Homo sapiens: one gene and its partners. The protein of the gene in region 3 interacts with the protein of the main gene of each other region in a biochemical or structural test. Each region holds a gene or a part of one and is shown on either strand. Other genes may lie near its edges. The genes, in order: TRIM28, CBX3 and ZNF10.

The links.
Region 1: the proteins of ZNF10 (region 3) and TRIM28 form a complex in vitro, tested with the Homo sapiens proteins (6 studies listed by BioGRID).
Region 2: the proteins of ZNF10 (region 3) and CBX3 form a complex in vitro, tested with the Homo sapiens proteins (one study listed by BioGRID).

The regions. Positions count from the first base shown.
Region 1 is NC_000019.10:58,542,965-58,551,215, forward strand, and holds TRIM28 (transcription intermediary factor 1-beta), read left to right. Parts: upstream 1-1,099; 5' UTR 1,100-1,793; coding exon 1,794-2,133; intron 2,134-2,460; coding exon 2,461-2,573; intron 2,574-2,799; coding exon 2,800-2,932; intron 2,933-4,411; coding exon 4,412-4,547; intron 4,548-4,632; coding exon 4,633-4,749; intron 4,750-4,827; coding exon 4,828-4,942; intron 4,943-5,069; coding exon 5,070-5,216; intron 5,217-5,329; coding exon 5,330-5,444; intron 5,445-5,521; coding exon 5,522-5,628; intron 5,629-5,775; coding exon 5,776-5,812; intron 5,813-5,897; coding exon 5,898-5,946; intron 5,947-6,023; coding exon 6,024-6,276; intron 6,277-6,366; coding exon 6,367-6,686; intron 6,687-6,772; coding exon 6,773-6,896; intron 6,897-6,984; coding exon 6,985-7,071; intron 7,072-7,182; coding exon 7,183-7,320; exon of another isoform or gene 7,321-7,412; coding exon 7,413-7,589; 3' UTR 7,590-7,751; downstream 7,752-8,251. UniProt on the Homo sapiens protein: Nuclear corepressor for KRAB domain-containing zinc finger proteins (KRAB-ZFPs).
Region 2 is NC_000007.14:26,202,307-26,213,405, forward strand, and holds part of CBX3 (chromobox protein homolog 3), read left to right. Parts: exon of another isoform or gene 1-303; intron 304-664; 5' UTR 665-692; coding exon 693-716; intron 717-4,061; coding exon 4,062-4,204; intron 4,205-6,086; coding exon 6,087-6,249; intron 6,250-9,355; coding exon 9,356-9,450; intron 9,451-9,775; coding exon 9,776-9,902; 3' UTR 9,903-11,099.
Region 3 is NC_000012.12:133,123,864-133,135,770, forward strand, and holds the start of ZNF10 (zinc finger protein 10), read left to right. Parts: upstream 1-6,763; 5' UTR 6,764-6,891; intron 6,892-11,907. UniProt on the Homo sapiens protein: May be involved in transcriptional regulation.

The DNA of each region.
Region 1 (8,251 bases), on a different chromosome or scaffold from region 3:
CAAAGTCAGGGTAGCTGCTGACGAAAACATGGGGAGGGGATGCCTTGGGGGGCTGGGTGGGATTTCACAGACTCATTGCTCTTTAGCCTCTTGTGATTTATATATATGTGTATATATATATATATATTTTTTTTCTTGATGGGGGGTTGGGGGGCCCGGCGTGGTGGCTCACACCTGTAATTCCAGCACTTTGGGAGGCCAAAGTGGGTCTATCATCTGACGTCGGGAGTTCGAGACCAGCCTGGCCAACGTGGTGAAACCCCGTCTCTATTAAAAATACAAAAATTAGCCAGGCGTGATGGCAGGCCCCTGTAATCCCAGCTACTCGGGAGGCTGAGGCAGAAGAATCGCTTGAACCCGGGAGGCGGAGGTTGCAGCGAGCCGAGATCGTGCCACTGCACTCCAGCCTGGGCAACAGAGCAAAACTCCGTCTCAAAACAAACACAAAAACCTTTCTCTCCTCTTTTGAGATGGAGTTTCACTCTTTTCTCCCAGGCTGTAGTGCAATGGCACGATCTCGGCTCACTGCAACCTCCGCCTCCCGGGTTCAAGCGATTCTCCTGCCTCAGCCTCCCGAGTAGCTGGGATTACAGGCGCCTGCCACCACGCCCGGCTACTTTTTGTACTTTTAGTAGAGACGGGGTTTCACCACGTTGGCCAGGCTGCTCTCGAACTCCTGACTTAAGATCCAACCGCCTCGACCTCCCAAAGTGCTGGAATTACAGGCGTGAGCCGCCGCGCCCGGCCACATTTTTCTCCATCTGTGGTCTAGGCTGGCGTGCAGTGGCACAATCCCGCCTCACTGCTGCCTCGGCCTCCTGGGCTAAACGGAGCTTCCCGACTCGCCTAAGAAAGTGGTGGGATTACAGGTATGAGCCACGGCGCCCGGCTGTGATCTACATTTGATTCAGTCAAGTTTCTGTGTTTCTCAAGTTTAACTATAGCGTGGTTAAAATCCAAAAGTCAGCACCCGAGCTCACACAGGAGCTTCCTCCCTCTTGGGATGGAGACTCTCCTCCCCTCTCCCTGGACACAGCCCTTCACTCGGTCTTGGCCCCGCCTACTTCTCCATCGGCCCTGCCCCCTATCCCGAACTCTTAGTGACGCAGAGGCTGGAGACGACTCTACGGCGGCGAAGAGACGCGGGTTGAGGAAGAGGGACGGATTGCCCATGCGCTTGGGCGCACAGCGGCCCGCTTCTGTGTGGTCTGGAGGTGGAGCTGAGAGGGGAATCACACTCTATAAAGGTTCGCATACCCCACTGGCGGATTCAATTGCGGCAGTGACGTCACAGAGGCCCCGCCCCGCCCCCACAAGAGCCCCACCGACGTGGGGTTGGCGGTGGTGGAAGGACTAGGAGTTGGCGCGTGCGTACTGGCGGCCTCTCCCGCACCGACCGGCCTGGGCCCCGCCCCCGGGCGTGAGGCGCCCAATGCGCGTGCGCGGCGGCGTCGGCGCCAGTTATTTCTGTCCCGCCCCCCGGCCTCGGCTCTTTCTGCGAGCGGGCGCGCGGGCGAGCGGTTGTGCTTGTGCTTGTGGCGCGTGGTGCGGGTTTCGGCGGCGGCTGAGGAAGAAGCGCGGGCGGCGCCTTCGGGAGGCGAGCAGGCAGCAGTTGGCCGTGCCGTAGCAGCGTCCCGCGCGCGGCGGGCAGCGGCCCAGGAGGCGCGTGGCGGCGCTCGGCCTCGCGGCGGCGGCGGCGGCAGCGGCCCAGCAGTTGGCGGCGAGCGCGTCTGCGCCTGCGCGGCGGGCCCCGCGCCCCTCCTCCCCCCCTGGGCGCCCCCGGCGGCGTGTGAATGGCGGCCTCCGCGGCGGCAGCCTCGGCAGCAGCGGCCTCGGCCGCCTCTGGCAGCCCGGGCCCGGGCGAGGGCTCCGCTGGCGGCGAAAAGCGCTCCACCGCCCCTTCGGCCGCAGCCTCGGCCTCTGCCTCAGCCGCGGCGTCGTCGCCCGCGGGGGGCGGCGCCGAGGCGCTGGAGCTGCTGGAGCACTGCGGCGTGTGCAGAGAGCGCCTGCGACCCGAGAGGGAGCCCCGCCTGCTGCCCTGTTTGCACTCGGCCTGTAGTGCCTGCTTAGGGCCCGCGGCCCCCGCCGCCGCCAACAGCTCGGGGGACGGCGGGGCGGCGGGCGACGGCACCGGTAAGTACGAAGTGATCGGTGCCACCCCTCCCCCTACTCTCTGCCTTTGATTCCGACTGGGTGCAGAGATGAGGATGCCACCTGGGCGAGAGGATGGGGGCCCGGACAGGGCACGGGAAATACTTTCTGGGTCCTGCATACGAACGTGGGTTTGTGCTGGCCGCTGAGATGGGACATCTGACTAAAGTTGGAGAAAAGAAGGCTCGGGGAGGGGAGGGGCTGGTTCGCTGCGGGATAATGGTCGGGGGCCCACCCAGCAGGGGAATGGTGGGGGCCATAACCTGGGTGGGAACTTGTAACAGTCTCCCACATCCCTGCTTCTCGAAGTGGTGGACTGTCCCGTGTGCAAGCAACAGTGCTTCTCCAAAGACATCGTGGAGAATTATTTCATGCGTGATAGTGGCAGCAAGGCTGCCACCGACGCCCAGGATGCGAACCAGGTGCGTCCTATCTCAGCAACCACAAGGAGGTTTCTGGGGAGGGGGCATCTGCGCAGGAGGAGCTTGGCACCAGCTCCAGGCTGTTACTCCACTTTCCCAAGGCTCTGGGTGGGCTGCCTAGGTTGGGTCAAGGGACCAATCTTAAATCTCCGGTTGTATTTTCTGGGATGTAAACGTGGATCTATCAAGTTGTCTTGCCTTCTCTGACCCTGCCTTTGTCTGGCAGTGCTGCACTAGCTGTGAGGATAATGCCCCAGCCACCAGCTACTGTGTGGAGTGCTCGGAGCCTCTGTGTGAGACCTGTGTAGAGGCGCACCAGCGGGTGAAGTACACCAAGGACCATACTGTGCGCTCTACTGGTACATGAGGCTGAGGGGGGCTGTTGGAGTTGTTCTCCCATGTGTGCCCTCAGTTGCTTTTATGATGTTGGTTGCATCTGGTGGATGGGTCCTAGAGTTCTCTAGGGGGTGCCGCCCGAAGGGCCCGAGGGCAGAACTCCAGAAGCAGAAAAACTGGGGTTGTGGTGTGTAGTCTCTAGGGCCTAGGTGGGAGAGGGTGGGAAGGGGAAATAAGGGAGACCTTAATGTGCTGCAGGGAGGTACAAAGGGTTTGAGAAGGCTTATCAGGGAGTTGTCAGACCTGGTGGTGAAGGGCTCAGCATATGCAAACAGGGAAAGGCATGGTGTGAAGGGCTTTCTGGGTTTGTGGTTCCCTGGCACACATCTGGTATAAGATGCTGCTAGGGAAAGTAGACTGTGGGTCCATGGATTATAAGTGATGATGATTTTTGGAAGTGTTTTAGCTTTTGAGTTGGCAGAGACTTACCCAAAGTTTGGTTTGGCATTTCCAGCTTTTCACAGACACAGCTAGCTTTGGTTTGGAAGGAGCTTGAGAGTCTTTTGAGTCTAGCCAAGTTTTGGGGCCAGAATCCTCCCATGAGTGGCCTTTTGGTAGCCATACTGTGATTCTTCCCATCCCAGAGGACAGCATTGGTGGAAGATAGCGGGAAGGTGGTGGCTGTGGGGCCTGAGCAGCCAGGAGGGATACGCAGGGGCTGCAGGGTGTCCTACATTCCAGACGTCCCAGGCAAAGGTCAGGGTGCAGGAATGAGTGGCATTGGGGAAGTCAGTTTCCCCAATGAGCCCTGATGCTACATATTTTGGATTTGGTTGGTATGTGGGACCAGTGTGTTTGATCAGTTTTCTAATGGGGAGACAGGCTTTGGAGGTTATTAATGGGTTGGTCTTTGGGTGGGATTATGCTGAGCACCAAGATTCTGCTCTAGAGGGGGTGTGACCACCATTCTGAGGGTCCTGGTTTGACATTTCATCTCTCCCAGTATGAGAACCTCTACAAGGTTTCCTCTGGGCCCTTGGATTGTAAGAGACCCTGGTGTTCTCTTGTCAGGGAAGAGGGAGGAAGTTAACCATGAAAGGAGAAGAAAAGGAATCCAGGGTGGTGTGTAGGCAGAATTCTGAGTATGTCCACTTGGAGAAGTGTTCAGTAAAGGGAACAGTGTGGGGAAGGGTCAGCGGGGGTGGGGGGTGGGGTGGGGTGGTCCTCTTTTTCTAGACGCTGTTATCCTTACCCTTACATTGTTGTTATCTCTAGAAGCTAGAAGAAAGGGATGTGTTTCTCAGCTATGTTGGGGCAGAGGATTCTGGGAGCAAGGAGTTGGGCTTGCAGGCCTGTGTTCTTCCCTGGCCACACCCTCTACATCTTCCCAATAAATGGCCCAGTGTCACAGAACAGGCCGGAAATGAGGCCCCAACTCATTCTGCTTCCTGAGTTGGGGGTGGTGAAGGGCAAGGTCCAGCCTTATGATTCCCACTCCCCAGGGCCAGCCAAGTCTCGGGATGGTGAACGTACTGTCTATTGCAACGTACACAAGCATGAACCCCTTGTGCTGTTTTGTGAGAGCTGTGATACTCTCACCTGCCGAGACTGCCAGCTCAATGCCCACAAGGACCACCAGTGAGTCCCAAGGCATAGTGGTTGGGTGGGTGGGTGCCACCCCTTCCGTAGCTTAGTGCTCAGGAACACATCTGTCTGCTCTCAGGTACCAGTTCTTAGAGGATGCAGTGAGGAACCAGCGCAAGCTCCTGGCCTCACTGGTGAAGCGCCTTGGGGACAAACATGCAACATTGCAGAAGAGCACCAAGGAGGTTCGCAGCTCGTAAGTGTGGGTTCTGGGGCTGTGGGGGTGGCCCAGGGCAGCAAGACCCTACCTAGCCTGACCTGCTGTGTCCCCTAGAATCCGCCAGGTGTCTGACGTACAGAAGCGTGTGCAAGTGGATGTCAAGATGGCCATCCTGCAGATCATGAAGGAGCTGAATAAGCGGGGCCGTGTGCTGGTCAATGATGCCCAGGTAAGCCTTGTGCCGGTGAGAAGGGTCCCTGAGCCCCCTCTGCTGATTGATGATGCTGTCTGGGGTGAGGAGTGATCCTAGTATTCTTCTGCCTTCTCTGCTTACCTCATACACCTTCTATCTGCAGAAGGTGACTGAGGGGCAGCAGGAGCGCCTGGAGCGGCAGCACTGGACCATGACCAAGATCCAGAAGCACCAGGAGCACATTCTGCGCTTTGCCTCTTGGGCTCTGGAGAGTGACAACAACACAGCCCTTTTGCTTTCTAAGAAGTTGGTGTGTACTGGTGGGCTCCTGGCTGGTGGGTTCCAGGCAGGTGGTTCCCAATACCTCAAATCCCTATTTGTTGTTGGTGTGCTCATTCTTTCCTCCCTTTCACTCCCAACCAGATCTACTTCCAGCTGCACCGGGCCCTCAAGATGATTGTGGATCCCGTGGAGCCACATGGCGAGATGAAGTTTCAGTGGGACCTCAATGCCTGGACCAAGAGTGCCGAGGCCTTTGGTGGGTCCCCAGCTTTACCTCACTCTGTTATTACCCCACGTGCTGCACCTACTTACGTTTCTCTCTTCTTTTTGCAGGCAAGATTGTGGCAGAGCGTCCTGGCACTAACTCAACAGGCCCTGCACCCATGGCCCCTCCAAGAGCCCCAGGGCCCCTGAGCAAGCAGGGCTCTGGCAGCAGCCAGGTGAGCAGGAGAGAGGACCCAGGAAGGGGTGGGCAGGGAATGGGGTCCAGTAGCAGGAGAGAGGACCCAGGCAGGGGGGGTGGGCAGGGAATGGGGTCCAGTAGGGTTCCTGTCCCACTGAGGCAGAGGGTTCTGCTTTGTTCACAGCCCATGGAGGTGCAGGAAGGCTATGGCTTTGGGTCAGGTGAGTGGGTCTGCCTAGTGGGTGGGGAAGGGCCCCAGTGCTGTTTCTACCCCAACCTGCCAGTCTTCTTTCTCCATTTTCTAAGGAGATGATCCCTACTCAAGTGCAGAGCCCCATGTGTCAGGTGTGAAACGGTAAGTATGGCACCTCCCCTGGGGGTGAGGTGGATGGAGGGTGGGGGTGTACTCATGCCAGGTTGCTGCATCTACAGGTCCCGCTCAGGTGAGGGCGAGGTGAGCGGCCTTATGCGCAAGGTGCCACGAGTGAGCCTTGAACGCCTGGACCTGGACCTCACAGCTGACAGCCAGCCACCCGTCTTCAAGGTCTTCCCAGGCAGTACCACTGAGGACTACAACCTTATTGTTATTGAACGTGGCGCTGCCGCTGCAGCTACCGGCCAGCCAGGGACTGCGCCTGCAGGAACCCCTGGTGCCCCACCCCTGGCTGGCATGGCCATTGTCAAGGTAAGCCTGTCCCAAGGAACTATAGCTGTAGGATGAAGCCTGTAGTCCAGGTCTGGACCCTGTTGAACACCCCTCATCACCACCTTGCAGGAGGAGGAGACGGAGGCTGCCATTGGAGCCCCTCCTACTGCCACTGAGGGCCCTGAGACCAAACCTGTGCTTATGGCTCTTGCGGAGGGTCCTGGTGCTGAGGGTCCCCGCCTGGCCTCACCTAGTGGCAGCACCAGCTCAGGGCTGGAGGTGGTGGCTCCTGAGGGTACCTCAGCCCCAGGTGGTGGCCCGGGAACCCTGGATGACAGTGCCACCATTTGCCGTGTCTGCCAGAAGCCAGGCGATCTGGTTATGTGCAACCAGTGTGAGTTTTGTTTCCACCTGGACTGTCACCTGCCGGCCCTGCAGGATGTACCAGGGTGAGTGTGAGGCTGGTGGGGGTCAAGTCTGGGTGTTGGGCTGTCTGGACAGGATCATGTGCAGACCCTTATTTTCTTCACCCTAGGGAGGAGTGGAGCTGCTCACTCTGCCATGTGCTCCCTGACCTGAAGGAGGAGGATGGCAGCCTCAGCCTGGATGGTGCAGACAGCACTGGCGTGGTGGCCAAGCTCTCACCAGCCAACCAGCGGGTGAGGGCTGGGGTTACTTAGGTGGGGTTGCCCAGAGAGGCTTTATAGGTGCTGCCCAGAGCTGTGACATCCCTTACAATGTTTGTAGAAATGTGAGCGTGTACTGCTGGCCCTATTCTGTCACGAACCCTGCCGCCCCCTGCATCAGCTGGCTACCGACTCCACCTTCTCCCTGGTGAGTCCTAGGATGGGAAAGGGGAAGGGGGTGGTGGCTGCTGGGTCTCGCCCTCAACCTGTGCATGTATATGTGTGTCTTTGTGTGTGTATGTGTGATCTCTGCCTGCAGGACCAGCCCGGTGGCACCCTGGATCTGACCCTGATCCGTGCCCGCCTCCAGGAGAAGTTGTCACCTCCCTACAGCTCCCCACAGGAGTTTGCCCAGGATGTGGGCCGCATGTTCAAGCAATTCAACAAGTTAACTGAGGTGAGCCAGTGGAATGGAGAGGCTGTGGGCAGGGGGAGATGTGAAGGAAAGAACTAGGACCCATTCATCCACTGCATTCCTGCTTGGCCCAGGACAAGGCAGACGTGCAGTCCATCATCGGCCTGCAGCGCTTCTTCGAGACGCGCATGAACGAGGCCTTCGGTGACACCAAGTTCTCTGCTGTGCTGGTGGAGCCCCCGCCGATGAGCCTGCCTGGTGCTGGCCTGAGTTCCCAGGAGCTGTCTGGTGGCCCTGGTGATGGCCCCTGAGGCTGGAGCCCCCATGGCCAGCCCAGCCTGGCTCTGTTCTCTGTCCTGTCACCCCATCCCCACTCCCCTGGTGGCCTGACTCCCACTCCCTGGTGGCCCCATCCCCCAGTTCCTCACGATATGGTTTTTACTTCTGTGGATTTAATAAAAACTTCACCAGTTCCTCAGGCGTTGGCTGGTTGGGGGACTGTGGTCCTGGGGCCTGGTTTATTGACTGTATCTACTAGTCAGCCTTATCAAGCACTGGTGGCACAAGGGAGGGGGGTCTTGTCCCCCACCTATCGAAGCCCATGTGTATGGATGCCTAGGGAGTGGGGAAGACTGCCTCCTTGCCCTTTCTGGGTATGGGGAGGGTCACCCAGGGCAAAGGATGTACACACTAGAGGCTTGTTGGGTACCCTGTGGGATACTGGGTAGGTGTGACCTACATCCCTGTGTAGGCAGGGTTAGCCCCAGGTGTAGCACAGCCACTCTACTGAATGCTTCCTAAATTTTGGTGCTGTAGCTGTTTCTCATCTTCAGAAGGTCCCACAGTGAACTGAGACCTTCCAGATGTGGTTTTTTTCCCTGTCTCCCTTTGCTGAGTCCACTTAACATTATCATTCATCTCTGTGTTATGATTTAGTTACTCTACAGTCGAGCCTGTGTGAATCCCAAGGCCA
Region 2 (11,099 bases), on a different chromosome or scaffold from region 3:
GCCCTTGAGCCCCCGTGCCGCGGCCTTTGTTTCTCCCCGCGGATGCGCTGACCACGAGGCCCGCGCTCCCGGGTGGGGGCGGGCACCCGCGCTTAGGCCTCTGGACGCCGGGCTTCAGCGGCGGGGGTCGGGAGCGGGTGTTTGCAAGAGGTGATTCTTTTTTCAAAGTGTCACGAAACGGGGTTGAAGCATCTTAAGTTTTTTCCTTTTGTTATTTAATTACCGATTGGAAAGAGGGAGGGTTTCTGAGCAGAAACCAAGTTGGGATTGCAGAACAGAGAAGATTCACAGTGCTTTACCGTTGTGAGTTGTTTGGGTAATCGTGCCTGGTTTTAAACCGAAAGGATTGTCCTTTAAAAATGGAACATGGACTTTATTATAAATGGGACTTAGATTGGAAAAGACATTGGTCCCCTATTTTAAGCCATGTGAAGCTGTTTTAGGTACCAGGATCCCCAGTAAAGTCTTTCTAGACTCACATGGTTAGGACACGTACTTAAGTACATCATAAGCAATGTAGGTAGGAGCGCAGATCTACTCTGGATTTGTATTCACGTTTGAAATGTGCGCTCTCTACTTGGGGGTTGGAATCCAAACAGAATTTGTATTTAGTTACCTTTTTTGTGTCATGCAAACTTACCTTAACTGTCATGCATTTTTCTAGTAATAGCTCTTCAAGTCTGCAATAAAAAATGGCCTCCAACAAAACTACATTGGTAAGTTAATGAAAACCTAAAATATGTAAGGATTTAACTCAAGTTTTTTTTCCCCACAGTATAACTTTGCATCTCTGTGGCTGAGAAATTTACATCCACATATTTCCCAGCTCTCCCAGTGTAAATTACAGGGGAAAATTAAGAGAAAAACGAATTCATTACAGGGAGATACTGGCTTGGCTTAATAGTGTCTTAACTAGTTCAAAGAAGGCTAATCTTTGAAGGACAGTGCAATGTGGATTTTGCTGAGGATTTTTATCTTCAAATAGAAATACACACATTTTTGCAGCGTTGAAAAATGTTACATAAAATGGTAAAGCCCTTGTTGGTTGGCATAATTTTTCTTAAATCCCCAGAATTCTGGAGAAGTATTTTCATTAAAGCCCAATTTAAAGAACAAGGTACCTTGTGCACCTAGGTTGGAGCAAAAGTCATTGAATCTTTCAAATTACTTTGGTCACTTTATCTTGTTTTAACTTACTCTAAAACATAGAAGAATATTAAGTTTAATTCATTGCAGTGTTTTGTTTTTTAAACAAAATGATCGAAATCGCAAATATGAGCCAGAAGGGAGAAAAGGCTAGATTTTTTTTTTATCTTATTCAGCCATGTCATGTTACAAGTTTTTTTAAACCCTGGAATATTCACATAAAAATCATGAAATTCAAAGTTACAGTTTTCACAATATTTAACATTGCATTAATCTTAAACACGTAAAGGTGAATGTTAATGTCTCCTAGGTAAAATAAAGCATTTGTTTTTGGCTTGTATGTGCTCTCTCTGGGTTTCACACTAAAAAGGGCACGTTAGTGATTTTTAATTTGTGCCATCATTAGATTCTGCATTAAGTCTGTTTACCCTGCATTAGATTCTGCATTAGATTCTGTTTACCCTGGAAAACAGAAGTTGTTTTTGCACGCAATTGATAGCCTTTGGGGTCTGTTATTGTATTTAGTTTATTTTGTGAAGGATCACAGGTTGGCCACTTTAAAAGTTCTTAACTTTCCATTTTAAAAATTCATTAGTGTTGTGAGATATGTGTGCTGTTAATTTCACTTAAATAATGGGAAATTTATTTTGACTCATCCACTTTTGGAAAAAAGTGCTGGGTTAAGGCAAATATATACTATAAAAGAAAATAGTGAGCATTTGAAACTAGCTTATGAATGCCATAGTAGTGAATGAATACTGTATGGCATTTTGTCTGCCTTTTTTTTTTTGTAAACCTTAGTGTGTATCCTTTTCATTTTCTGTATTTATTGTTGACTTTATTTTGTTAGCCTTCTCCCTTTGTGGCAGTAGCTGTTTTGTTTTTCATGTAGTATAGGTATCTGATACACTTCTGTCTATTACAGTTTGTCTTTGCTCCTCCCACCATTATTCCTACCTTCTTGTACTGTACAGTGGCAGAAAGCTGTTTGGGCCCAGTACTCAAGTATCTTGACTAATGAGAATCATAACACCTGACTTAGAAATGGTATCCAAAAACGTCAGGTGTTTGCTGCATGTTTTTGTATTTCAGGGGATTTTTATTTTGTGTGTGTGTATGTGTTACCTATATGCTTGCATAGCTTGAAATGCCCTTTTGCAGTCTTGAGGCCTTTCTTACATATCTGTCTGCACACTTCATATGCCTGCATAGCTTGAAATGTCCTTCTGTAGCCTTGAGGTGTTCTTAACTTTTTTCTGCTTGCTGCTTTACTTGTGGGATGGCTTTAATGATTGAGCAATTAAGGTTTATCTTTTTTAAATAGTATTTGGGTTTTTTGTTTTTGTGTTTTTTTGAGACAGAGTTTTTCTCTTGTTGTCCAGGCTAGAGTGCAATGGCGTGATCTTGGCTCACCGCAACTTAAGCCTCCTGGGTTCAAGCAGTTCTCCTGCCTCAGCCTCCCAAGTAGCTGGGATTACAGGCATGCACCACTATGCCTGGCTAATTTTGTATTTTTAGTAGAAACGGGGTTTCTCCATGTTGGTCAGGCTGGTCTCAAACTCCTGACCTCAGATGATCTGCCCACCTCGGCCTCCCAAAGTGCTGGGATTACAGGCATGAGCCACTGCCCCCGGCAATAGCATTTGCTTTAAGATGAAATGTTAAGATGGATTCCTTCTCAGCCCATAGGATCTTCTGATTAACCATTTCAGGGTTTTTTTTCCCCCATTTTTAATCCTCTCATAAAAATTTTCCCCATTTTTAGTCCTCTCATAGGAAATCTTGAGCCATTGGAAAGAGCTGGTTCACGTTGGTTTCCTGCTTCTCTTAAATAGTGTCATACCAAAGAAAATGCCTGTTTAAAGTGAATTTGGTTACCAGTATAGACTTTCTCTTGAGAAACCAGGAAGGAAGGATTTTTTTCACCTTAGGGAATTAAAATAAATTTGTAATGTTGGTCTCTTGAAGTGATAGCTTTATAGTTTTGTTCTAAGTGGTAGGAAATATTATCTACAGAGATTATGGAAAAATAATCTTGTCCTTTAATTGAACCTCCTAGTGGTCTCTATAGTTGACCCTGCAGTTGGTATCAGGATTTTGAACCATGTTTTCATTCTGCATTTATCTTTTCTCTGTATCATTGATGCTTTTGACATTAATATTTGAATTGAGAAGGGGGCTGGGGCTTTTACCATCTGGGGGTGGATACAAGGTCTGTCATAGGTTCACCTAAGACCTGTCACTACTACTTGCTTCTCTGTATCACCCTTTAGGTACTTCCTGCATAGTTGTTTGTTGCAGTGTTGTTAAAATGAGTGAAAATTAGTAAACTTGGTCTTTTAAGACTACAGGGCCGGGCGCAGTGGCTCACGCCTGTAATGCCAGCACTTTGGGAGGCCCAGGCTGGTGAATCACTTCAGGTCAGGAGTTTGAGACCAGCCTGGTCAACATGGTGAAACCCTGTTTCTAATAAAAACACAAAAAAAATTAGCCCGGCATGGTGGCATCCGCCTATAATCCCAGCTACTCTGGAGGCTGAGGCATGAGAACTGCTTGAACCTGGGGAGGCGGAGGTTGCAGTGAGCTGAGATCACGCCACTGCACTCCAGCCTGGGCGACAAGAGTGTGAGACCCTGTCTCAAAAAAAAAGACTGGAAAAAAATAACTGTTTCCAGATAGTGTTTTTTTATTGTATTATTTTGGTGGTGGGTTGTAAGTTTGAACTAAATGAACAAGATAAAGCATTCTTTTATTTTATTGTCTGTTGACTTTTAATCTTTCCAGAAGGTGTCTGCCCTGGGATATAGAAGTAAAAATTTATGTCGAATGTGATAATAATATAAGCAATTGAGCCTTGAAAATGTGCTCAAAATTCAAGAGGAATATTTCTTAATTTCTCTTTTGTTTTATTTTAGCAAAAAATGGGAAAAAAACAGAATGGAAAGAGTAAAAAAGTTGAAGAGGCAGAGCCTGAAGAATTTGTCGTGGAAAAAGTACTAGATCGACGTGTAGTGAATGGGAAAGTGGAATATTTCCTGAAGTGGAAGGGATTTACAGAGTAAGAAACTTTAGTGCATCTTTACTATATGTTTAACTGCAGCTAAGTGGTTTTAGAATTTGTTTTTAACCTGGCTCTTTTACCTGCTTTCCTGTAGGTGTCTTTAAATGTAAAGACACTTTGAATTTTAGGTGTCTCATTTGAGGTCTATTTCAAAAGAACCAAGACTTTATTGTACAGTTGAAGGTGAGCAGACTAGAGACTAGTTTATTACCCTGGGGAGTCAAATTTATAAAATTATGGAGTGTAGTTTACTATGTAATATATTTTAATGTGGTTAGATATTACACTAATTAGAATAATCTGCATTATTTTCCTCCACACAGAGGGTGCTAAAAACATTGAAGCTTTACAATATAGACTAGTGGGTCTCATACAGGATTACATATAATCTAGGCTTTATACTAGGTTTATTATATCCTTATACCTAAGAAGTAGAACCTGGGCATGTTTTAAGCTCTCTGGTTCCTTGTGTTCTTTGATATGGATTGCTCTCATTATTCTTGATAATGTTATTCACAAAATGTGAATAACTTGAACATGCAACAATTACATACTTTAACGCTTGGGGTTTGTTGTGCTTATCTGCTTTGATTCTTCCCCCTTACACCACAAAGCTCCATAGGCAGTGACAATTAAAAATGGATAGGTGGAGATCAATTTCCTGAGCACGCTGGAGATGGAGCATATGATAGTCGAATGATTGGGCTTCACCTATCTGTTATCTCCTACTTCCCCTGCTCTTCACATTTAATTCATAGCAGTTTGGGAATTATGAATTGAATGGGAGATTTACGTTTGCCTGTTTTATCCTTCAGTATTCTTAGTTTAAATTAAGTATGTGTCGTAAGTCCCTTCTTTATTAAGCCCATGAAACATGAAAAATTATTTTTACCCATCAAAACATTAGGAAATGAATGGGCTCCTCCCTCTTCTCCCAAAACTTAAGGCCACTAGCATGATTATAGCGTACTTCCCATGTGCAGTGTAACAGGTAATGTAAAAGACTTTTTTTTGTTTTGTTTTGAGATGGAGTCTCACCCTGTTGCCCAGGCTGGAGTGCAGTGGCGTGATCTCAGCTCACTGCAACCTCTGCCTTCCGAGTTGAGGCGATTTTCCTGCCTCAGCCTCCTGAGTAGCTGGGACTACAGGCGCCTGCCACTATGCCCGGCTAATTTTTGTATTTTAGCAGAGACCGGGTTTCACCATGTTGGTCAGGCTGATCCCAAACTCCTGACCTCAAGTGATCCACCTGCCTTGGCCTCCCAAAGTGCTGGGATTACAGGTGTGAGCCACCGTGCCAGGCCAAAGAAGACTTTAATGAAAATAATACTACAGAGCAGAGACTTTTATTGTCCTCTACCCAGTAATTTGGGTTTACTAATTTGGAGTCTCAGGGTAGCAAATTAGAATATAGGGCCTGGGTGCAGTGGCTCACACCTGTAATTCCAGCACTTTGGGGGTCCAAGGCTGGAGGATCACTTGACACCAGGAATTCAAGACCAGCCTGGCCAACAAAATGAGACCCCTTCTCTATTAAAAAAAAAAAAAAAGTGTGTGTTTTAAGTTAGCTGGGCATGGTGGTGCATGCCTGTAGTCCCAGCTACTTGGGCTGAGGTGGAGGATCGCTTGAGTCGGGAGTTGGAATCTTCAGTGAGCTATGATTCCACTACTGCACTCTCGTCTGGGCAACAAAGCAAGACCCTGTCTCTGGCGGAGGCAGGCTGGGGGGTGGGGTAATGTAGGGAAGGAGGAAATGATTAGTATCTGCAGTACAGAGGACTTTTTATTCCCCCGGGTGTCTATTAAAATAGATCTGGATAATGGTGATGAATCATATTTAATTCAATCACCTTTTTTTTTTTTAATAAACTAAACACAGTGCTGACAATACTTGGGAACCTGAAGAAAATTTAGATTGTCCAGAATTGATTGAAGCGTTTCTTAACTCTCAGAAAGCTGGCAAAGAAAAAGATGGTACAAAAAGAAAATCTTTATCTGACAGTGAATCTGATGACAGCAAATCAAAGAAGAAAAGAGATGCTGTAAGTATAAAATATTGCCCACCAGCTTGTCCTTTTGTAAAAGGTTGATGGCTTGATTTCTTTTTTGTTTGTTTGTTTTTTTGAGATGGAGTCTTGCTCTTGTCGCCCAGGCTGGAGTGCAATGGCATGATCTTGGTCACTGCAACTGCCGCCTCCTGGGTTCAAGCGATTCTCCTGCCTGAGCCTCCCAAGTAGCTGGGATTATAGGTGCCCACCACCACGCCCAGCTAATTTTGGTACTTTTAGTAGAGATGGGGTTTTGCCATGTTGGCCAGGCTGGTCTTGAACTCCTGACCTCATGATCCTCCCGCCTCGGCCTCCCAAAGTGTTGGGATTGTAGGCATGAGCCACCACGCCTGGCCTTTTTTTTTTTTTTTTTTTTTTTTTTTTTTTTTTCCTGGGAGACAGAGTCTCCCTCTGTCACCCAGGCTGGAGTGTAGTGGTGCAGTTTCGGCTCACTGCAACCTCCGCCTCCAGAGTAGCTGGGATTACAAGCGTGTACCACCACACCCAGCTGGTTTTTGTATATTTAGTAGAGACGGGGTTTCACCATGTTGGCCAGACTGATCTCAAACTCCTGACATCAGGTGATCCACCCGCCTCGGCCTCCCAGAGTGCTGGGATTACAGGCGTGAACCACCACACCAAGCCCACCTTTGACGACTTGCTTTTTTAAAATTCAGATACTTTTATAAAAGGCCTCTTAATCGTATTTTAAATATTTTAATACTTAGGACAATAAGGATGGGCGTGGTTTAGCCTACTTTGTGTAAATGTGCAGTAAGTGCTCATGCCACTTAGGTTGTGCTAGTGCAATTTTTCTTAGTTTCATGGATTTGATCCCTGATCAGACCAATTACCTGTGATCCAAGGCTAGCAATCTTAAATACAAACAATACTAAGATTGGATTATCGAAAGCCTTTGCACTACAGTAAGAACAACGCAAATAGAACTTTCTGATTATAGTCCATCAATGGCATTGACCACCGAAAAGTACTTGCATGTCATCTTTGTATTGCCAAACAATACCTTGATTTTGAAGTCTGTAATCTTTGATAATAGTTAAACACTTTTCTTGGCATGAATTGAGACATTCAGTTCATTCACTATACATGTGTTTTGGTCCAGTCTTTGCTTTACTTATGTCTCTGTGGCGTCAGGCAAATCAGGTAACTTCTTACTTACACCCTTGATTGTAAAACAGATTATACTTGTCTTGCCTACTGACCTAGTGTGGCAATTTGGGGAAACATCTTGGTGCTGAATTAGGTTCTAGGCTCAGGCACTAAACATGATTTAAAACTTGATCATTTGAACTAGAAGCCAAGTACAACCTTCAAGACAACTCTGTATAAGGTCATAGGTATAATCACTATTTTACAGATGAGGAAACGAGATTGACTACAAATTTGGTTTTGAAAATAAATCACATGCTCAACAGAAGCAGTTTTGGCCAGGCACGGTGGCTCGCACCTATAATCCCAGCACCTTGGGAAACCAAAGCAGGAACATCGCTTGAGCCCAGGAGTTGGAGGCCAGTTTGGGCAACATAGTGAGACCCCATCTCTACAAAGAAAAAAAAAAGAATCAGCAAGACGTGGTGGACACCTCCTGTAGTCTCAGCTACTTGGGAGGCTGAGGCAGAAGGATTGCTTGAGCCTGGGAGTTCAAGGTGCAGTGAGCTGTGATCATGCCAGTGCACTTTGGCCTAGGCAACGGAGCAAGACCTTGTCTCAAAAAATTATTAAATAATAAATCAGGCACAACTTTAACAACACTTATTGAGTCCTTAGCATGTGCTATACTGTGTGCCAAATTATTTGCTTTTAATGTGCTGTGAAATATCTGTGCAGTAGATACTAAAATTCTGTTTTATTAACCTAAACCACAAAGAGGTTAATTAACTTGCCCAAAGCCACACAGCTCGTAAGTGGGGTAGGTCCATCATTCTCACCCAGGCAGTGTGACTCCAGAGCTTGTGACATTGATGTAAAACTCTGACAGGAATAAAGGATTTATTGATATCATTGGTTCTCAAACTTTTTTTGGTCTCAGGGCCTCTTTATACTCTAAAAAAATTATTGAGGATCCCCAGAGAGCTTTTGTTTATATGGGTTATAATTATCAATACTAACAGTAGAAATTAAAACAAATTTCTAAAATGACTTTTCTAAAAAAGCTGAGAAGAGTAGCATTTTACATTTTTACAGATATTCAACATGTGTCTTAAGGCAATTTTACTTAAACACATTTGATTGCTGTGGCGGATCATTTTGGTGGAGGTATATGAAGACAATCCAAAGTCACAAATAGATGAAAAAAGGGGGCCTTACACAACCCCCTCCCAAAAAGGACTCTGGAATCCCCAGTGAATCCGTAGACCACATTTTGAGAGCCACTGGTTTATATTAAGTACTTTCTAGCGCAGGGGGTCCAATCTTTTGGCAGCCCTGGGCCACATTAGGAGAATTGTCGAGGGCTACACATAAAATAGACTTAATACCAACCATAGCTGATGAGCTAAAAAAAAAAAAAAAAAAAATCGCAAGAAAGTTTCAATGTTTTAAGAAAGTTTACAAATTTGTGTTGGGCCTCCAAAGCCATCCTGGGCCACAGGTTACACAAGTTTGTTCTAACATTTACTATCATTTAGAATGATTACAGATAGTTGGTATGAGTTTTAACATTTTTAATATTTCTTACCGTTTGTGTTTTGTTTATGCTTTTAAAATGTGTCAGTAATTCAGACTAATTCCTGGAAGTCATTTGAAATATATTAACTTTCAAGACTTTATTATTACCAGAAATAAAGAGGTTAGTTTTTCTGTATGCCCACACAACTCTGACTTTGGTGTCATTGAACGCAGTAATTTTCTTGACTTTTTATTCTGAATGTTTTCAGAAATTTTAAGTATTCTACGTTGAGTATCAAACTCAGGTTTTTCTGCTTGTAAAGTTAATGGAAATCAGATGTTTTTAATTACCAAATATGGGTTCTTGCTCTAGTCATTTCCATCTCACTATTGGAATGTTTTTATTTAAAATACGCCATGAAAACAATTTAATACTCTGAGTTTGCTGTATGAAAAAATGTCTTCTAAACAGGCTGACAAACCAAGAGGATTTGCCAGAGGTCTTGATCCTGAAAGAATAATTGGTGCCACAGACAGCAGTGGAGAATTGATGTTTCTCATGAAATGGTGAGTATGCAGAGATTGTTACATTTGAAAGTAAGAGTAGCTTTTTTTTTTTAATTTGTGAAATGGTTTTTCATCATTAGGTAGGGAAAAACTATCTGCTGAGAGGATGATTCTGGTTACTTTTACTAGTAGTGTTTTAAAGCAAGGGTCAGCAAACTGTGGCCTGTTTTGAAAATGAAGTTTATTAGAACATAGCAACAAGTAACATAACTCTCCTGGAGCACTTCAATACCTTTTGTTTGGACTATTATTTCTTAAATGAATGGCTGTCGGTTGACATGAACAACTTCGACTTGTAACTGAATTTTTCTTTTTCTTAAAACAGGAAAGATTCAGATGAGGCAGACTTGGTGCTGGCGAAAGAGGCAAATATGAAGTGTCCTCAAATTGTAATTGCTTTTTATGAAGAGAGACTAACTTGGCATTCTTGTCCAGAAGATGAAGCTCAATAATTGTTCACATTGTTCTTTTATATATATTTATATATATATATAAAAATTGGGTCTTAGATTTTGATTTACTAGTGTGACAAAATAACTACATCCTAATGAAAATCAAGTTTGATATGTTTGTTTTGAAAGTAGCGTTGGAAGAGTTGTTGGGGGTTTTTTGCATCCATAGCACTGGTTACTTTGAACAAATAAATAAAAGCTTTCTGTAGTTGCTTCCTTTATCAGAAAAGAACATTTGATACCATGGTATATCATTTCCTCTTCATTAAAGAACAGCTTTTCTAAATGTTGGGGGAAATGTCCATAGTCATTACTCAGTCAAAACTTGTGTTCTCATGAGCCTAAGGACCATTCTAGATTTATTACGTGTTTTTTGTGTGTGTGTGTGTGTGTGTGTGTGTGTGTATCCATAAAATGCATATGTAAATTTTTTTTTGTTTTTAAGCATTCACCCAAACAAAAAAATCACAGGTAAACCCATGTTTCTGAGATGCCATTATTCCAAGCAAAATAAGAGATAATCCCTTCAAGTTAAATTGAAAATTTTCCTGAAACCATACATTTCAAGTGAAATAAGTAATTCTAGATAGGACAATTTAAATTGGATAATTTTAAAGTGTCTATAATTGCAGTGGTTTATTTGCAAAATTCCTAAAAGGAAAAATTTTATCACTGCCATCACAGCAGGTTTCCTCATCCAGATGAGGAAACTAGACAAATGCTAGTGTGTTTTAACTAGCTAAACAAAACTAAGTTAAATGAACATTTAAAAGTTTCCCTAGCGGGCCATTCCTTAGCAAAATGTTGGAATCCCTGTTGCTACATTGACTAAAAGGTCATGATGAATGGAATATGTAAGACTTGGCTCATAGAAACCTAATCAGATGGTTAGAGGTGTTGGCAGTTTAGGACCTGCTGTCATAAATGTGTGAACAACCTTTTGTAACCTAACCTATTGACCTGCATGTTTTTTCTTTACCCCAATTCATTACATGGAGGCTCAATCTTGAGTTTGCTTTACTGGTTCAGCAAAAGCCAGGAAGAACAACTTTGTAGTAATCAAAATGTTATCCAACTGTATATTGTTTACTTTATTGTAAATACTGGTGAACAGTGGTTAATAAATAGTTTTATATTCCTTTATGCAATTATTAGACTTTTTTCTTTATTTGATATGCCTTTACAGTAGAAATAGAA
Region 3 (11,907 bases):
CTTTTCTAGTTATAGCACTAATTACAAACACTAAACAACTTTACTAAACAATAGGAAAAAATATTTGAATAAATGGCGAGATTCACTAGGTGAATCACCATGGGATTTTGATTAATCTATGTATTTAATAGGGATTTCCTGAAATGTAGCTTTTAAAGTTTTATAGAAAACTAAAGATATATAAAAAATCAAGGCAAATACTTTAAAATGCCTTACCCTATTATGTTTCAAAATACATTATAAATCTCTAGTAAGTAAAACAGAATGATATTAGGGCAATAATAGAAAACAAAACAGTATCTTCAGAAACAGATTCTGTGTAGCTAGACATTTAGTACATAACAAAGATGGCACTTTAAATCGGTGGGGGGAAGGATGAACTATTTAACAAATGATATCAAGACAAATGGCTTTCTGTTTGGAAAAAAACACACCCCTCACATTCACAAATTCCAGATGGATTAAAGATATGCATATGTGTTGAACAGGAATTCCAGAAGAGGAGAAAAAAGGGAACAGAAAAGAAGCAATGTGAGATATAATGAATGATTGTTTTTACTCCAAGATGAAAGAAGGATATATAAGTCCTTGATCTGAAAGCCTATATACCATGTGCCATGTAGAATACATTTTAAAAATACATCAGCTACCAGCTACACTGAAGGTAAACTAGAATATCAAGAATAATGTGTAAAACTTTAAAGTTACCGAAGAAAAAAGGCTAATTATCTACAAGGGAATATCAATTATACTGACTACAGACTTCTCAGTTGCAAAGATAGAGGCCAAAAAGGCAATAAAATAATATCTTCAAAGTACTAAAGGAAAACAACAACAACCTAGAATTCAATCGTATGCTAAAGACTGAGAGCAATATAAAAGGCCTTTTATATTGCTCTCAGTCTTTAGCATACGATTGAATTCTAGGTTGTTGTTGTTTTATATGGGTGTTCTATATGGGTGTGTGTGTTAACCACTCAAGATAGTTCCTGAAGGAACTACTAAAAGGATGTAAGCTGAACTCAGAAGAAAGCAGAGGGGTGTAGGAGTAAAACAAAAGCAAAGAAGGAATTCAGAGGAAACAATGTAAGAAACAGAAAACAACAAACTTCAAAGCAACAACAGCATATTCAAAAGAGCACACAGCAAGGGATATTGGAATTAAAACAATATGGAGACATAATTTTTCTATGGAAAAACCATACAGACTTCAAATTGTATAAACATTATCTGGACCATGAGTCAAAGAAATGAATTTTAAAAATTCACGAGAAAACGGAAAAATCTGAACACTGCCTATACATTAGTTACTTATTTTTTAGAGACAGGGTGTCACTATATTGGCCAGGCTAACCTTGAAATCCTGGCTTAAGTGATCCTCCACCTTAGCCTCTGGCCTCCTGAATGGCTGGGACTACAGGCATACCCTCCCCACCCCATCCCTTGGCTTTTGCCTATAAATTTGATATAAAGGAATTACAAATTTTGCAGGTGTGAGACTATCCTACTTAAAAAGGAGTACTTATCATTCAGAGATGCATTCTGAAATATTTGCAAATAATATATAATGTCCAAGATTTGCTTCAAAATAGAACAATGGGGCCTTTTTCACAAGATGGCACTGATGGCGAAGAAGGAAACTCCTGTCTCTCCTATGGCTAAAGCCAAAGCAAAGGCTTTGAAGGTCAAAAAGGCAGTGGTGAAAGGTATTCACAGCAACAAAAAAAAAGAAGATCCGCATGTCACCCATCTTCTAGCAGCCCAAGACACTGAGGCTCTGGAGGCAGCCCACGTATCTTCAGAAGAGCACCCTCAGGAGAAACAAGATTGACCACCATGCTATCATCAAATTCCTACTGAGTCTGCCATGAAGAGGATAGAAGGTAACACACTTGTGCTCACTGTGGATCTTAAAGCCAACAAGCACCAGGTCAACATGCCCTCCTCACAGGCTTGTGAAGAAGCTCTATGACACTGATGTGGCCAAGGTCAACACCTTGATCAGGCCTGATGGAGAGAAGAAGGCATATGTTTGACTGGCTCCTGGTTCCCATGCTCTGGATGTTGCCAACAAAACTGAATAATCTAAACTGAGTCCAGCTGGCTAATTCTAAATATGTACATCTTCTCATCAGGAAAAAATAAAATAGGATGATTGGTACACTGTACTACTATATTTGTGTATGTGTTTGAAAACTTCATAATTTGAAAAATAATCAGAGAGATATTTCCTCTATGAAATAAGAATACAACTCTATGGATTTTTTTTAATTTCCCAGGAAGTTAAAAATTATAATTTAAAAACTCCCCAAAAAGGTACAAGGGTTAAAAGATAAACTTAGGGCCGGGCACGGAGGCTCATGCCTGAAATCCCAGTACTGAGGCGGGTGGATCATGAGGTCAGGAGATCGAGACCATCCTGGCTACTGTGAAACCCCATCTCTACTAAAAATATAAAAAATTAGCCGGGCGTGGTGGTGGGTGCCTGTAGTCCCAGCTACACGGGAGTGTGAGGCAGGAGAATGGCATGAACCTGGAAGGTGGAGCTTGCAGTGAGCCGAGGTCGTACCACTGCACTCCAGCCTGGGCAACAAAGCGAGACTCCGTCTCAAAAAAAAAAAAAAAAAAAAAGATAAACTTAAGGAACTTTTCTAGAAAGCTGATCTTGGCTGAACACAGTGGCTTACGCCTGTAATCCAGCACTTTGGGAGCCGAGGTAGGCGAATCACTTCAGGTCAGAATTCTAAGACCAGCCTGGCCAACACAGTGAAACCCCGTCTCAAATAAAAATACAAAAAAAAAAAAAAGCTAGATGTGTTGGTGCACACCTGTAATCCCAGCTACTCGGGAGGCTGAAGCAGGAGAAATGCTTGAACCCAAGAGGTGGAGGCTGCAGTGAGCCGAGATGTGCCACTGCACTCCAGCCTGGGCAACACAGTGAGACTCTGTTTCAATAAATAAATGAATAAATAAGTAAAGCTGATCTAAAAGAAAAAGTAAGAATAAATAAAAAAAGACCACTATATGAGCAATTTAAGGTACCCCAGATTACTCAGAGTTCCAGAAAGAAAAAACAAGAGGAAGAAACAAACAAGTACAGGAAAACTTTTTTTTTTTTTTTTTTTTTTTGAGACGGAGTCGCCCAAGCTGGAGTGCAGTGGCACAATCTCGGCTCACTGAAACCTCTGCCTCCCGGGTTTAAGCAATTCTCTGCCTCAGCCTCCGAAGTAGCTGGGATTACAGGCGCCGGCCACCACGCCCGGCTAATTTTCTTATTTTTAGTAGTAGAGATGGGGTTTCACCATCTTGGCCAGCCTGGTCTTGAACTCCTGACCTCATGATCCACCCACCTCGGCCTCCCAAAATGTTGGGATTACAGGCGTGAGCCACGGTGCCCGGCCAGAAACTTCTTATTCCTTAAAAAAACACAGTATCTAAGAACTGATCCATCAAAGCAAGTAATTTCTTTAAATAATTAGAACACACATCATCATGAAATTTTTGAATACCAAAGAGCTCCAAGAGATGATAAACAGATTACACATAAAAGAACAAGGTATGAAATAGGACTTCTCAACAGTAACAGTAACACTGCTCCATTTCCTATCTAGCTTCACTGGCTTTCAAAATTCTAATGGAAAGTAATTTCCTATTGAGATGTGTATACTCGGTGAAAACACCACACAAATGTGAGGAAAAAGTAATTTCTAATCATTTCTACAACTTTAATATATGTAGATCATATGGACCCTTTCTTCAAGGCAGTTAAGATTACAATCCACCAAACAGGAATAGAAGTGCTTTACAGGAAACAGGAGATTTAACACAGAGGTGAGATGAGGAAATTGATGAGGGCAAAAGGGAAGCCCAGTGGTATGCCAGCGTGCTGCATGCCTACAGAGTAACTGATCAATCTACATTGCAGGGGGATGTCCAGGAAAGGAGAAAAGTGATAAGACTGTATGACAGATTAGCCCTTGAGGAAAATGGAACCAAAAGACATTTTACATAGATTTAAGAAAAACTAAGCAAATGAATAAAAAAGGCAGTCATTAAAAACAAGAAAGGTAAACCTTGCACAAGAAAGAAACATATTATGGCTCAGTACTAAAGAGTAGTCATCAAATGAAAACACTGAACATATTTATCCAAAATTTGTGGGAGAACTACATTATAATATTTGTAAAATAATTACATTGTGATTTAAGGATGTAGAAAGAAGGCAGCCAAAGTTCTTATTTAACATGATAAAAATTTTAAAATAATGTCACAAATCGGTGAATAAAAAAATACTGAGAGGAGTTCGAAGCCAGAACTGCTTAAATATTTCCAAGTGGTTGCCACTGGGAAGAGATGGGGTTAAGGTGTTTCCTGTTTTTATTATGAGTCTTTTAACATATTCAGCTCTTAAAAATGTACACACACATTTCTTGGAGCACAAATAAAGAGTAGTAAATTAATTACCCAGTCAAATCAAGAAGCAGATGGCCAGGCACGGTGGCTCACGCCTGTAATCCTAGCACTTTGGGAGGCCAAGGCGGGCGGATTGCCTGAGCTGAAGAGTTCGAGACCAGCCTGGGCAACACCGTGAAACCCCGTCTCTACTAAAAAATACAAAAAATTAACCGGGCATGGCAGTGTGCGCCTGTGATCCCAGCTATTCCAGAGGCTGAGGCAGGAGAATGGCTTGAACCCGGGATGTGGAAGTTGCAGTGAGCAGAGATCCTGCCATTGCATTCCCGCCTGGGCGAGAGAGAGAGACTCTGTCTCAAAAACAAACAAACAAACAAAAACAAAAATTAGCTGGATTAGCCGGGCGTGGTGGGGCCTGAGGCAGGAGAATCGCTTGAATCCGGGTGGTAGAGGCTACAGTGAGCCGAGATCACGCCACTGCACTCCAGCCTGGAGACAGAGTGAAACTCTGTCTCGAAAAAAAAAAAAAAGTAGAAAAACAGAGACAAAGTAAAAGAAAAATTTAAAAATTAAGAGCAAAACTTACTGTAATAGGACCCCCCTCCCCAAAAAAGACCAAAACAAAACAACAAAAAAACCAAAACCAAATCTACATTTTTGAAAAGACTATGTACACATATACCTTATAGGAGTAATCAAGAAAAAAAGGCCTAGATAATTAGGTTCAAAAAAGAAAAAAATAACAATTACAGCAGTAAAATATTAAAAAGTGGTGATTTTAAAAATCACCATAGAAATTACTTACAGTGATAAAATAGCATGGGCAATTTTATGCCAATAAATTTGAAAAATTAGATTAAAAACAATTATCTAGGAAAGGTATCTAAAACAGAATACGAACTAAAAAACCTAATCAATGAGACTTTTTAAAAAATTGAGTCAGGGCCGGGTGCGGTGGCTCACGCTTGTAATCTCAGCGCTTTGGGAGGCCGAGGCAGGCTGATCACCTGAGGTCGGGAGTTCCAGACCAGCCTGACCAACATGGAGAAACCCCATCTCCACTAAAAATACAGAATTAGCTGGGCGTGGTGGCTCATGTCTGTAATCCCGGCAACTCACAAGACTGAGGCAGAAGAATCACTTGAACCCGGGAGGCGGAGGTTGCTGTGAGCCAAGATGGCGCCATTGCACTCCAGCCTGGGCAACAAAGAGCGAAACTCTGTCTCAAAAAAAAAAAAAAAAAAAATTGAGTCAGAAGTTAAATGCGTACTAAATATTTTAAGACCAAATAGCACCAAACTTTTGGAGGCGGGCGGGGGGCGGTGAGGGGTGGTGACCTGTTTTACAGAATAGAAGAGAGACTGTGCTGTCCAAATTATTCATGAAGCTTGTAAAATCTTGTTAGTATAACGGGCAAGGATAGTACACAAAAAGATTAAAACACAATCTTGTGAGCATAGGTGAAGTCAAAGGGAAACAGCCAATTGAATACACCAGAGTATTAAAGAAATAAAACCATATCGCATTCAACCACAGTATAAGGCAATAGGTGAAAAAAACGATGGCTGTGATTCAACTCATTACTAGGTTTAGAGATTCAAGAGAGGCTGCTGGACAGAGGCGTGCACCCTTTAGCCCTCCCGTGTTGCTTAGAGAAGGAGGCAAACGCGCATCCCCGGCCCCCCAGCGCTCCCTGCGTGGCACCCGCAGCCAGCCCGGGACCCCTCCGCCCCGCGCGCCCCTGGTCCCCACTCGCTCCCCGCGCTCCACTCGCACCCGGTAAGTAGCCCCTCCTCCCTCAAGGGCCTCTCCCACCGCCGCCTCCCGGGCAGGCTCCCTGCTGCTCAGACTCCCGTGAGGCGATCCCTGCACGCAGGAGAACTCAGCGGGCCAGGCTGATCCCACGAGGGACTTGTCCCGGGTGAACGAGCCACAGGCCCGCATGCTCACCCGTCCTCAGTGCCTGCCTCCAGGCGTCCGCGGTCCCGCCCGAGGGGGACGCGAGGCCGAACTACGTTTCCCAGGAGCTCCTGCGCCGCCCCGCAGAGGGGCCTGGTCTGTGCGTCACGGACGCGCTCTGGGCCGAAGGCCCGCAGGGTCCGGCACAGAGTGGCGGCTGCGGCGCCGGCGACGAATCGCCGGCTCTAGGGTCCCGGGGCGCGCGGCTGACGGGCTGGGGGCGGAGCGTGGCCTGAACGCCAGGCTGGGGCGCGTGCGTAACGGTGTGTGTTGTGGGTGCGTGTGCGTGCGTTCGCAGCAGGGGCGGGCGTAGGACCAATGGGGGCGGGGCGCGTGCGCGTGCGTGACGTCAGGCCACGGGGAGGTGGCGCCGCCGTGCCGAGCCGGCCTCAGACTCACCTCTGACGCCGCTCTTCGCGCTCCGCTGGTGAATGGAGTCGCGTTCTCTGTTTTGCTGTTGCTGCTGCCTTTGTGACGGGATCGCTTTCTCCCATCGAACCTTCTAGTTGCTTATTGCAGGTATATACGAAAGTGCTGAATTTTGTGTTTGCATCGTCATCAGGCGCGTGTTGAGCCCTTTAGTAATGTAGCAGTGTATTAGCTTCGTATTTCTAGGTAGACGGTAATTTCGTCAATGAAAAAATTTAACGGTGATCGTCACCCCTTGCCTCAGTCACTTTCTGTCCCTCGCGCGGCCCCGGCGTTCACGGCGGACGTTCTTGTTCTGTGGAGAATAACGGCTGCACCTGGAGATTGACGCAGAGTGGGCGGCGGTGGTGGTAAGTTTGAACCAGATATTTTCAGTAATACAAAATAAGGTTTCTTCTAGTCTAACTTCCATTTTTCCCCCCAGCTGGGATAGATGTTTAAAATTTTGCATATGGCCTTTCTAGTATTTGTTGAAATAGTGACGCCGATTCGTGTGTGGTCTTTTAAAAACAAATCCTGCATCTCTAGCTCTTAGCTTCCTCATCTTTGTTTTGTTTTTTAATCAGATAGATTAACTGAAGGCGTGTTTGTGTGGTTAATCTATTTTTTTTATTTTCAGAGACAGATCATAAGTTTAATTACTATATTTTTATTTTCCCTTGACACTAGATATATATACGCCATCTAACACATAATATGAGTGTCAAAGATAAGGTTAACATCAAGATTTCGTACGTAGATCCCACCCAAAGTGTATGCAGAAGGTGAACAATTTCAATTCCAGCTATACATTAATTGCAGAAAGATACTGTTAATTAAAAAAAAAAAAGTAAAAGGGAAGGCAGGATGTCACCCAGAATGCCAGCCAACAAGTGTTATTAGGTTAGAAATGACTGCAGTTAGGTCTCCGAGAACTGGATAGCACAAATCCTCCCTACCCTTTTGAAAATTACCTCCACACTAACTTTTCTCTTGTGACATAACTAATCTCTTCTGTTTTACTAAAATTGTCCCCCATCTTCCAAAGCCTCTTGGATGGTAAGTTGCACACGCTCCTGCCTCTTTTTGAAAGTTACATTTGTTTTTTGATTACTTCTCTCAGCATGCATTTCTTTAGCTCTTAGTATATGCTAGTCACAAGGGCAGAGATTTGAGATACACATCATAAATTAAATGAGAATTTCTGCTTATCAGTATTTTATATAAGCACTGTCTGGAAATTCTACTTAGGACAATATTTAAGTAGATATGAGGCTTACCTTCTGGAAAAGAGATTACAAAATTATCCTTGTTAATTAATTAACTAATTAAGTCCCCAAAATGAGAAGAGATTCAATTACTATCAATAATTTGTAGTAAAGTGACTGAAAAGGAAATATATAAGCTAATAGATTGATTGCCGTCCTCAACAAGTTAGCACATACTTTTATTTTTAAAAAGTCTTCACAATAGGAAGAAAATAATTTTAGCTAGAAATATATGTGAACTATATGAGAAAAACTTCAAAACCTTACTAGGCAATTCTTACTAGAAGAATAAAGGATGAGTAAGAATAAAAACAGTTCTGTTTATAGATTATATTCAATTGTCAAGAAAATCTGAGAATTTTTTTTTTTTTTTTTGAGATAGAGTTTTGTTCTTGTTGCCCATGCTGGAGTGCAATGGCTCGATCTTGGCTCACTGCAACCTCTGCCTCCTGGGTTCAAGCAATTCTCCTGCCTCAACCTCCCTAGTAGCTGGGATTACAGGCGCCAGCCACCATGCCCAGCTAATTAACATATGCCAGTCACAAGGGCAGAGATTTGAGATACACATCTTAAATTAACAAGAGCAACAAGAGCGAAACTCCGTCTCAAAAAAAAAGTATTTTAAGGAAAAAGAAATTTCTTATTGTTAATATCTCTGTTGTGCCTACAAGAGACTCTTTTACTTTCATCAGCAGTACTCTTTCTAGCATGTCTCATGTCAGCCAGGGCTTTTAATTCTTCTGGCTATGAAGCAAGGTTGGGACAAGATATGATATAGGCCACCTTTGTCTGTGTATGTGCCTCTTTGACTCGTAATGAACATCCAAGAGCATTATTTTTTCCTCTTTCCACACAATATCTCCTTGCTGACTGATCCTAACATTTCCTGTTCAAAATTTTATTATGAAGAATTTTGAGCATACAGCTAAATTAAAAGAAGTTTACAGTGAATACTTATAAACCTTCCCATCTAGACTCTACCATTAATATTTTACTGTACCTAATTTTAACACATACCCATCTGTCCCTCTTTTTATCCATCAGTTCATTGTATTTTTAAATTTTTTTCAAAGTAAATTGACATGGGTACGTATTCCTTAAAAATTTCAGAATACGTATGTATTATTAATTAGAATTCTATATTTGTTTAGATTTTTCTTTAGATGTAAAATTTACATAACATGAAAAGCGCAAATCTTAAGTGTACATTTGCTGAGTTTTGACAGATGCAGGATCTTTGCCTTTTGTATCTTTAAGTATATCTTTGCCATGTCTATTGGTTACCGAGTTTTAACTTTGTGGCTGCTGGGTCCTTTTTGCTGATCATACCTTGCCCTTTGCTGAAGCAAATACTGGTAAACCTATTCAGAACTTGAAGAGACCCTGTTCTCTTTATTAATGAACATGTACTCCATGTCCCCAAGTGAAATGCGGTTCCTGACGAGGTTGTACCTGTCAATGTGAGTGCTGGTTAAGTATAGTCACATGTCAGAGTGAATGAATATGAAGTGCTAAGCACTTTGCTAGCCTCTTCCCAGGATTTAGAATGAGATTGTCCTAATTCTTAAGTGGTTCACTATCTCATAAGGGAGACAGACAAATCTTGGTACCGTAAGGCAGCGTTGAAGTGCTGGAATAGGGCATGGGCAGAGTCCTTCATGTTTACGGATGATAGAACCACTGATCCTCTCTGAGATAGTGGGAAGGCGTCACAGCATAGATGGCATTAAAGTGATCCTTAGAGAATATGGGGCAAGTGTAGTGGGAGTTAAGTTGAAAAGGGTCCAGAACGTTGTTGTGAAACTTGTACGCTAAGTGTTTGATTGGAGCTGTGCTTTGGAACTGCGTGTGCCTCAAATAGTAACTTTCATAGCCTTCTTGCCGATACTTGGAGCTTCTTTTCAGCCCATCTCTGCCCTTGTGGCAGCCAAAATAATGGCTCCCCAGAGATATCCCCAGCACCTGGGAATATTTTACCTTATACTGCAAAATAAAATTTGCAGTTGTGATTCAATGAAGGATCTCAAGATGGGGAGAGATTATCCTGGATTATTTCAGTGGGCTTAGTGTAATAACAGGGGTCCTTAAAAGTAAAAGAGCTGGGTGGCCGGGCACGGTGGCTCACGCCTGTAATCCCAGCACTTTGGGAGGCCAAGGTGGGGAGATCACCTGAGGTCAGGAGTTCGAGACCAGCCTGGCCAACTTGGTGAAACCCTGTCGCTACTAAAAATACAAAAAAAAAAAAAAAAAAATTAGCTGAGTGTGGTGGTGGGCGCCTGTAATCCCAGCTATATGGGAGGCTGTGGCAGGAGAATCACTTGAACCCAAGAGGCGGCGGTTGCAATGAGCCGAGATTGCTTCACTGCACTCCAGCCTGGGCAACAGAGCAAGACTCCCTCTCAAAAAAAAAAAGTAAAAGGGGGATAAGAAGGTTAGCAATCAGGGAAATATAACCATGAAAGAAAGGCACAGAGAAATGTATCATTGCTGGCCTTGCAGGTGGAGGAAGGGTCAGGAGCCAAGGAGTGTAGATGGTCCTAGACACTGGACGGGGGCAAGGAAATAGATTCTTCTCTAGAGCCTCCAGAAGGAACACAGCTCTGCCAACACCTTAATTTTAGCCCTCCGAAACCTGTATCAGACTTCTGACCTCCAGAATTGTTATGTAACAAATGTGTGTTGTTGAAAACCACAAAGTTTTGATAATTGGCAGCAATGGAAAACTAATATAGCCCTCTGTCCTTAAGAGTTTACCAAAATAAAAATAGTCTCCCTTTCTCTGGCACTATGTTTTGACTTTGCCTCAGAAGAAAAATGGAGTGATTATAAATATTTTTTGTGACCACTCTGGTAGAAAATATAGACTTTATTGTAACATTTATGTTCACAAATAGAATTATATAGTCTTCTAGGAGATTTTACCATTTGGAGGTGGGAAGAAAAATCTCTTTGCAAATGTAAAGCTCACATTGTGGAATGGCTGTTGCTGTGCTTTCTAACTCCTAACATTGGACCTTTTCTCATCGTTGTTCCAGTTTTTCCTTCCCCAGGAAGTTTTGCAGATTTCCCCAGCCACATTTCCTTTCTCCATTCTCTTCATGTCTGTGGTACTAGACTTTTAACATCCTTCCATGGTTACAATCTGCTTGAGGGAGGGAAATTATTCTCATAGTTGTGTTCCTAACATCTTAAAAAGAGCTTCTCAGGTAGGGGACGCTCAGTCACTCTTGATAGCTACCTGAAATGCCTTTTGATCTTAGTGTGCGCATATAGAATTGTCTTTTGCCTTTCATGGGTCTGCCTTGTCTTACTGGGAAGATTATTGGATCTCAGAGCATCCAGACTACCTCTCATCTTTTGTTCTTACACAGCAGTGACCAAATAGTAAGTTGGGCTCCAAACTCTGCACTGTGAGCTGGGGAAAGGGCACTCAATGCTCCCTGAATACCAAGATCCATTATGCTGCTGCAGCCAAAACAGGAAATAAATAATGCTGGACATCATCAGGCAGAGGATTTGAAACAGCTTTCCTCTGTGGCATCGCAGTGTTCCAGGACTTCGTTATATGAGCTGAGCCTACCTTGCCTTCTCATCTCTGGAGGCTCTTCACTTCACTCTGCTCATGTCATCACTCCTGTGTGTCTCAGACTTCCACTCATGACCCAAACAGCACAGCCTCTGCAAACTTCGGTATCCCTCTTTCTGACTCTTACCCCTTGTTCTCCTGGCTCTTTTTATGTCCTTATTCTCACGACTCTTCTTGGAGGTTCTCCTCAAATCTGTCAGCTCCTTCCTTGACTCATGTCTATACCAAAACTAGATCCTGTTGTTGATTGCACACATTTCTCACATGAGGCAT